2 separate regions of the Homo sapiens genome follow, and region 1 is linked to region 2. Evidence: fine-mapped expression QTL. A gene starts in region 2. The other region holds a variant in brackets. All regions are shown on one strand. Distances are between the middles of the regions. Region 1 overlaps CEP104 (centrosomal protein 104). Region 2 holds the start of LRRC47 (leucine rich repeat containing 47).

The links.
Region 1: its variant is fine-mapped to the expression of LRRC47 in breast (GTEx, PIP 0.98).

What each region holds. Positions count from the first base shown.
Region 1 is chr1:3,815,039-3,819,409 of GRCh38, forward strand. It overlaps CEP104 (centrosomal protein 104), which reads right to left. Exons shown (of 22, transcript NM_014704.4): 21 at 1,242-1,332; 22 at 1-479. The coding sequence ends at 364. Among named protein-coding and RNA genes, the nearest start is that of LRRC47, 21 kb to the left of the region's middle. The variant C/G (reference allele first, on the strand shown) is at 1,559.
Region 2 is chr1:3,794,196-3,798,576 of GRCh38, forward strand. LRRC47 (leucine rich repeat containing 47) reads right to left here and starts at 2,303. Exons shown (of 7, transcript NM_020710.3): 1 at 1,667-2,303. The coding sequence starts at 2,281. RefSeq lists a silencer at 1,865-2,074 and an enhancer at 2,190-2,484.

The DNA.
Region 1 (4,371 bases), 21 kb after region 2:
AGGAAAGCGGGACCGTGCCTGTGCTGACCGTGGCCTTGCGCGAGCGCCTCCCGGCGGTGCTCTCTGGCTCTCTCCAAACAGGACGCTTCCTTCTCTGATTCTAAGGAAGGCCTGAGACAGCCCTGAAGGCTTAATGTACAGTGCGGCCAGGTCCTGGCACTGCACGCAGGATCTTTGGTTAGCTGCATCCATATCGTTTGCACGAGAGCTGACGGCACAGACGCGTAAGAGGCGTGCACGGCGGGGAGCTGGGGACAGCAGCCAGAGCATGGGGCCACCAAGGCCAGAGAGTTCTGGAGAGATGGTGTAGAATCAGGAGACCCGCTCCATCCCTCACAGAGACCAAGGAGCCCGAGCGCCGCGTCAGCGCTTGGCGTACGTCCTGCTGGAGCTCTTGCTCAGTCCGCCCTTCGGGGTGGGGATCTTGCTTCCGGCCTTTGACCCCAAGGGGCCTGATGCGGCCACAGCTGAGCTTTTCCCTGCAGAGCAAGCACAGGACCTGCATTAGGAGGGGCACTCCTACCCACGGACCAGGTGCAGAACCTGTGGCCACAGACACCCAGCAACAACGTCCCAGGCCCATGCTGATGGCCGTCACCCGACTACAGGAGCCAGGGCTGAGCCTAGTAGGGTCTACTCTTCAGCTTCCTATTTTTTTTTTTTTTGTTGAGACAGAGTCTCACTCTGTCACCCAGGCTGGAGGGCAGTGGCGCAATATTGGCTCACCACAACCTCCACCTCCCGGGTTCAAGCAATTCTCCTGCTTCAGCCTCCTGAGTAGCTGGACTATAGGTGCCGGCCACTGTGCCCGGCCAATTTTTTATAGGGTTTCACCATGTTGGCCAGGCTCATCTCGAACTCCTGACCTCAAGTGATCTGCCTGCCTTAGCCCCCAAAGTGCTGGGATTATAGGCGTGAGCCACTGTGCCTGGCCAGCTTCCTGATTCTAAACACTTGAGTCAGTGATGTAGAAAGAGCGGAGGACGGGAGTGTGAATCCTAGGCCACCCGTGGAGCCTTCGCACTGCACAGCCAGTTTGCAGGTGGAGAAGGATTTTGGTCACACGATTCTGATTATTAGCCTGCTTACTAAGGAACCAGAACATGAAGACAGGCTTGGATGCTTTATTTTGCTTTTAAAGGGATGGGGTCTTGCCATGTTGCCCTGGACGGGGATGCTTTTTTGAATAAGTCAAAATGGAGGGATGCAGACTACACCTGCTCAGCGGCGCTGTCCCTCACCTGGCTGCAGTGCCGGGGCCTTCTGCAGAATGTGTGTCTTGCGCAGGTTCATCGTGCAGCCGGCTGGGCCCATCAGGTGAGCTTTCCATGCCTGCAGCAGAGGAGGCACACAGAGTGTTAATCAGGCGAGACGGACCTGGCACGCTACCTGAGACCCAAAAGGACTCGCTGTGTAAGCTGAAAACGAGGGCGGCCGCTCCAGCAAGAGCCGCAGAAGAACGGCTCCCTCACCTGGGCACCTCCCTTCGGATATGTTATGATAGCCTCTGCAGTCTGTGCAGGGTACAACTCAGGAAGCAAGAAGTCCTGTCACCAGG[C/G]AAGCCTGCATCTCGCATCCCCACCCAGCCACACAGGGCCCTTGGTGTCAGTGACTCTGAGCACAGCAGAGCGTGCACGCAAATGCAAGGGTGAGAAGCAGAGCGCCCGCGTGATTACGTTCCAGGCCAGAAGACAGAACGCGCCAGGCACCGCGGGCTCCCCGCCAGCCTGCTGCCCACGGTTCCTCGTGGGGTTCCCACTCTCTTCATCCCTGCTCTTCCTGAGCCACGCCACATGCACTTGCCCTGCAGAATGTGGGGCTTATGCAGGCCTGACTGCCTGGGCAGCCAGCTTCTTTCCTTTACGACCAGCTGTGGGACCGTCTGCATGGGGACAGGGAGCTCATCTCGTCCTCCTGTTGGATATAAACGCGGGATCGCTGGTTCCCTGAGTCTTCTGGACATTCGAGTTGTTCCTGGTTCCTTCCCTTCTATTTAAACAACACTCACGAGGCTGGGCGCGGTGGCTCACGCCTGTAATCCCAACACTTTGGGAGGCAGAGGTGGGTGGATCACCTGAGGTCAGGATTTTGAGACCAGCCTGGCCAGCTTGGTGAAACCCCGTCTCTACTAAAAACACAAAATTAGCTGGGTGTGGTGGCGCATCTCGTGTCCCCAACAGCTAATCCCAGCTACTCAGGAGGCTGAGGCAGGAGAATTGCTTGAACGTGAGAGGCGGAGGTTGCAGTGAGCCGAGATCACATCAGTGCACTCCAGCCCGGGCAACAGGGTGAGACTCCATCTCAAAAACAAACAACGCTTCCCAGGGACACTGCTCCAGCCGCTCTCCCATTCTCTGGTGGACCAGTATCTCCACCAGACACAGCCCTGCTTCTCCCTGGTTCCTCTCTCACTCTCACCAGTGGCTGTCAGTTTCTGGCCACCTGCGGCAGCCCTCAAGATACTAGAGCGCTTGCAGCCCCAGCCCAGCCCACTCCTGTCCCGCTTTAGCTGCTCCCGGCAGGCCTGGGTTCTGGTCTCTCCAGGCCACTGGCAACCTTCGTGTCCCTAAAGCTGGGGCGCCTTCTCACCAGAATGTGGCCCACCGGCACATGGGGTGCAGTTGCTTCCCCCTCCCCCGTGGAGGGACATGACCTGCTCTAAGGCTCCAATTCCTCCCTCCCCAGCACAGAGGTGGCAGGTCCCTCTCCATCCCTTGAATCTGGGTGACTGTGGCTTGCTTTGGCCAATGGGACAGTGGCAGACACGTGGCAGGGCAGGCTGAAATGAACTCATGCGCCTGGGCTTGTCTTGCTGTTGCCCTCTGCTGCTGTCGCGAGAACGCCGTGCCCAGGCTGGCGTGCTGGGCTCAGACACAGAAAGCAAAGCTGAGGTGCCGCAGCTGCCTCCAAGACCATTCTCAATCAGTCTCCGGCTGCGGACCCCAGGCACACGCGTGTGTGAGCCCAGTCAGGGCCAGCAGAGCCGCCTGGCCGCCCTATGGCCAAGTGCAGATGCAAGAGCCAGGCGGCTGCGATCAGCTGAACCCAGCCAGGCCAGCAGGGCATCCTCTCTGATGGGCTGTGCTCTGGGGCCTCCAGGACGCCACCCTCGTCAGGCTTCCTCCCCAGTGCATTTCTTCCCCAGCGCCTGGTTTGCCTTCTTCCTCCCACTCTGCCTGGGGCTTCTCCTCTGTCTACACTTGCTCTTTAGAAGAGTGCTCCCAGTATCATGACCTTAAACCCACTTCTTATACACGCTTACAAACCCCACATTTCCACCTGCAGCCACCTGTCTACCGGCCTGCGCGTCTGACAGGGATTTTAACTCCACAGCTCCAGGCTAAGCTCCTGAGCGCCCTGGATTCCTGACCGCAGTTACTTCCTTGCCATGTTGTGAGGACTCCACCGGCCAAGTCCTGGGTCTGCCTGCAGTGTGTGTCCAGAATCTGACCACTTCTCGCCACTTAGCTCTCTGCTACTACCCGACCTCTCTGTCCCACAGGCTGCTCTCAACAGAGCAGCAAAACTGGCTGGCATAGGGCCCGCCAGGCCATGCCCACTCTTCCGCTCAAACCCTGCAGGGACATTGCCTTCCACTCACTTTGAAGAATAATGGTCAATGATTTTTCATCCCCAGCATTGTCTTTCAGTCTATTTATGTTCTTTGATGAAGAGGAGGTTCTCACCTTTTACAATTTAATAGTTTTATTATAAAATGAGTGTACAGTTCAGTAGTGTTAAGCATGTTCACGATGCTTAACTCCAGAACTCTTTTCATTTTACAAAACCCAAACTCTGCCCCAAGGTTCTTCATTTTAATCTAATTGAATTGATCTGCCTCTTCCATCAAGGCTTAAGCTTTCTGTGTCCTGTTTGAGAAATCCCTTCCTATTCTGAAGGCTATTCTCTTATCTCTAGCATCTCCTGAGAGATTCATAATTGGGCCTTTCACATTTGAATCTCAGATCCACTCGGAGCTTTCTTCTGAGCAGTGTGGAGGGTGTCAAACTTCACTGTTTATCCCCCTTCACATTCAGAAAAATTCCAGATGTTAGAATTAGCACAAAAGGACTTTAAAGCAGATACCTAGTATGTTCAAGGACTTGAACGTGCAATGAAGTGCTACTGATCTATTAGAACCCGGGCGAACCTTGAAAACACGTTAAGTCAAAGACACAAAGGCCGCATAGTGTCTGATTCCATTTACAGGAAATGTCCACAGTAGGCAAATCCATGGAGACCAAAACTAGACATATGGTCGCCAGGGGCTGGAGAGGGGGCTGGGGAGAAAAGGGGCGGCATGTAGGCAGTGTTGTCTTTTGGGTGATGGAAAAGTTCCACACGTGTGCAGATGGTTGCAGAACCCTGAAT
Region 2 (4,381 bases):
AACAACAATAATAATAACAGTAAAACTCCAGTCTCCACTTTAGCTGGCTCTACATGTGTAAAACTTTCTCTATTGCAACCCTCCTGCCCTGATAAATCAGCTCTATCCGGGTAGTGGATAAAATGAACCCATTGGGCAGTTACATCAGTAACCATGTGTCACTCTACAGTGGGTTTGTTTTTTTTGCCACAGGGTCTCGCTCTGTTCAGGCTGGTATCACAGCTCACTGCAACCTCCACTTCCTGGGCTCAAGTGATCCTCCCACCTCAGCCTCCCGAGTAGCTGGGACTACAGGCACGCGCCACCAGGCCCAGCTAATTTTTGTATTTTTGTAGAGATGGGGTTTCACCATGTTGGCCAGGCTGGTGGTGTGACCTCAAGCGATCTGCCCGCCTCAGCTTCCCAAAGTGCTGGGATTACAGGTGTGAGCCACCGCGCCCGGCCAGGGTTTGTCTATATATCCTTATATAGATATGTTACTTGTAAAATGAGTTGCAATGTCTTGAGGAATTGCTACAGCAAATAAATAGATAAGCTGCTAAAGTGTATACGTATTTTATTAAGAAATGTCCACATAGGCCAGGCGCGGTGGCTCACACCTGTAATCCTAGCACTTTGGAAGGCCGAGACAGGCGGATCACATGAGGTCAGGAGTTCGAGACCAGCCTGACCAACACAGTGAAACCCGTCTCTACTAAAAACACAAAAGTTAGCCGGGCGTGGTGGTGTGCGCCTGTAAGCCCAGCTACTCAGGAGGCTGAGGCAGAAGAACCGCTTGAACCCGGGAGGCGGAGGTTGAAGTGAGCCGAGATCGCGCCACTGCACTCCAGCCTGGGTGACAGGACCAGACTACATCTCAAAAAAAAAAAAAAAAAAAAGAAATGTCTGCATAAATTCAAAGACGAAAAATGGGGGAAGAAATGCAGGACTGCCTTAAGGATGAAACCAAAAGAGAAGATGGAGAGAACATCTGGCTGGGTTTAGGTCGTGGTTCTGCCATGTGGCTTCCCTACTTTCTTTTAGGCAACAGATTCAATGGGCACCTGTTATAGGCCAAGCATTATCGCGGGGCCTGGGGATCCAAGATTAATTAGTAAACAGACGCTGGACAATATAGTCTGGAGAAAAACCCAAGTTACCTGCTGCTTACTTTGGGCAGGCCCTTTGGCTTTCTGTAAAACAGGAATAACCACCCCTACCTTGGAAAGCTGCTATTAGGATGAAGTGAAATATAATCTTCAAGATCACAGCATGTGGCATTATGCAAAATCCAGGGTGCCCCCTTCACCACCAGACTCACTCTCAAGTCACTTCACAAGTACTAGATACAAAAAAGACAGGTCTCTACGCTCGATCTACAGGAGAAGCCAGGTTTGCTAACAATTACAAAATAGCGTACCACGTGTAAAAGTCCAGTTAACAGAATGCGGGGGAGTTCAGAGGCCACCTAGTATGTTGGTGTGGCCAGGAGAAGGGGGAGTTGGAAGGCGGCATCTGCTTCCCAGGGGTGATGCCCCCCGCAGCTGGCTCCTTTCAGCCTTGTAGGAATTCCCTGGGCCCAGTGCCCCAGGGGGCGTCACTAGGAACTGCTCGGCCCCGAGAGGGGTTCCTTCTCCAGGGCTACTCCAAGGCCCCATCCCGCCCCGCCCGGGCAGCCCCCGCTGACCTTGAGCGAGGCCAGGTGGGCGATGTCGGGGCTGAGTTCTCGGAGGCAGTTGTCAGCAGCCGCCAGTTCACTGAGCAGGGGCAGCGCGCCGGGGCGAAAGAGCTCGGCGGGAAAGGAGTCTAGGCAATTGCCGGTGAGGTTGAGGCTCTGCAGGCGCGGGGCGCAGCGCGCCAGGTCGGCTGGCAGCTCGCGCAGCCGGTTGCCGCTGAGGTTGAGGCTCTGCAGCTGCGGAAGGCCCGGCGGCTCGGCGGGGCCCAGGCCTTGGCCCGGCGGCAGCGCCTCCAGCGCGTTGCCCGACAGGTCGAGCACCCGAAGGGCAGGCAGCGGCCCGAGCTCGGGGCTCAGGCCGGGCCCCAGCGCGTTGCGCCGCAGCACGAGGCTGTGCAGCTGCGGCAGGCCCTGCGCCAGGCCAGGCCCCGGCGCGCGCAAGCTCCCGCAGCCGCTCACTTCCAAGTAGTGCAGCAGCGGCAGGGTGAAAAGCCGCGGCGGCAGCTGCCCACCCGCCGCCCGCACTCGCTCCTCCAGCCCGGGCCCCGTCAGCAGCAGCTCCCGCCGCCGCTCGCGCTCAGCCAGCTCCAGCTCCGGCCAAGACTCTGACACCGCTGCCGCCGCCATGGCGCCTCAGCTGCTGGCAGGCACCCACCCACCAGGGTGCTTCCGGGGCAGCGCGCGCCACTTCCGACCTGTGCCGGAAAAGCCCATAGAGAAGCCACCTGGCTGCTAGAGTGCCGCCGCGCGTGCCATAGAGGAGAGTGGCCTCTCCTGCGTAGAGCCGGGGAGGGGCTGGAGAGCGGCTCGCTCTCTCCGCGGGTAGGGGTGAGGGTGGGGGTTATGAACCCAAAAATATCTGAGACAGGACTCAATGAAATGTAAAAAGTTTATTTTGCCAAGGTTAAGGACACGCCAGTGTCACAACCCTAGGAGATCGTGACGATGGTGCCCAGGGAAGTTGGGATGCAGCTTGGTTTTGTACATTTTGGGGAGACGTGAGACATCAATCAACACGTGCGAGTGTACCTTGGTTCAGCCCAGAAAGGCTGGACAATTCCAGGAGAGGGCTTTCAGGTCACAGGTAGAGAAGAGACCGGAGGGTGCATTCTTTTGAGTCTTTGTTCAGCCTTTCGCTGACTGCACAATTTATTATGCATGTGAGACGCGGGTAGAGGAATAGTCGCTTATGCTTTAGTCTGGCTTACTGAATCTTCATTTCTACGTAAACAGTAGAGCAAAGGAAGCGATCAGATATGCATTTGTCTAGGTGAGCAGAGGGATGGCTTTGAGTTCAGTCCTTTGTCTCGCACCTGTGAAGGGAAGCTATCAATTTGCATTGCCAGGGTGAAATTCAACAGAACTGTTTTAGGGTAAAGATCTTGAGGCCCACAGAGAATTTCTTTGTGGGCAAATTGTGAGGGAGGTGTGTAGCTTTAAAAATATGTATTTGTAACTATCTTATTTAGGAATAAGACGGGAGGCCGATTTGCCCGAAGCAGTTCCCAGCTTGACTTTTTCCTTTGACTTAGTGATTGTGGGGTTTTGAGATTTATTTTCCTTTCACAGGGTGGGGTGCGGGCGGATGGAGGAGCCAGAGTCTGTGCTCTACTGTGCCCCGACCGGCTTGTTTTGGAATTCCTGCACTTTTGAGTGGTGTAAACCAAAACCAAAATTCTTTTTTTTTTCTTGAGACGGAGTCTCGCTCTGTCACCCAGGCTGGAGTGCAGTGATGCTATCTTGGTTCACTGCAACCTCCGCCTCCTGGGTTCAAGCAATTCTCCTGCCTCAGCCTCCCGCTGGAACTACAGGTGCATGCCACCGTGGCCGGTTAATTTTTATATTAACCGTGTTAATATAATTTTTATATTAACCGGTTTTCGCCATGTTGGCCAGGCTGGTCTCGAACACCTGACCTCAGGTGATCTGCTCGCCTCAGCCCCCCAAAGTGCTGGGCTCACAGGCACAAGCCACCGCACCCAGCCCCCAAATTCTTATTTATTTATTTATTTATTTATTGAGACAGAGTCTTGCTCTGTTACCCAGGCTGGAGTGCAGTGGTTCCAGCTCGGCTCATTGCAGCCTCAACTTCCCTGGCTCCAGTGATCCTCCCACCTCAGCCCCTGAGTAGCTGGTACCACAGGCATGTGCCACCACGCCTGGCTAATTTTTGTATTTTTTGTAGAGCTGGGGTTTTGCCATGTTGCCTAGGCTGGTCTCAAACCCATGAACTCAAGCAATCCACCTGCCTCAACCTCCCAAATTGCTAGGATTACAGGTGTGAGTCACCAAACCTGGCCAAAAAATAAAATTCTAGAGGCTGGGCACGGTGGCTCATGCCTGTAATCCCAGCACTTTGGAAGGCCGAGGCGGGCGGATCACCAGGTCAGGAGATCGAGACCATCCTGGTGAACACGGTGAAACCCCGTCTCTACTAAAAATACAAAAAAAATTAGCCGGGCTTGGTGGCAGGCGCCTGTAGTCCCAGCTACTCGGGAGGCTGAGGCAGGAGAATGGCAAGAACCCAGAGGGCGGAGCTTGCAGTGAGCGGAGATTGCGCCACTGCACTCCAGCCTGGGCGACAGAGTGAGACTCCGTCTCAAAATAAATAAATAAAAATAAAATAAAATTCTAAGCCCCCCAACCATCTGAGTGGACCCCTCCTCTGGGCCAAGGGCATTCCCTAGTTAATCTGAAAAACTAGTTCAGGCCATGATGGGAAGGGTC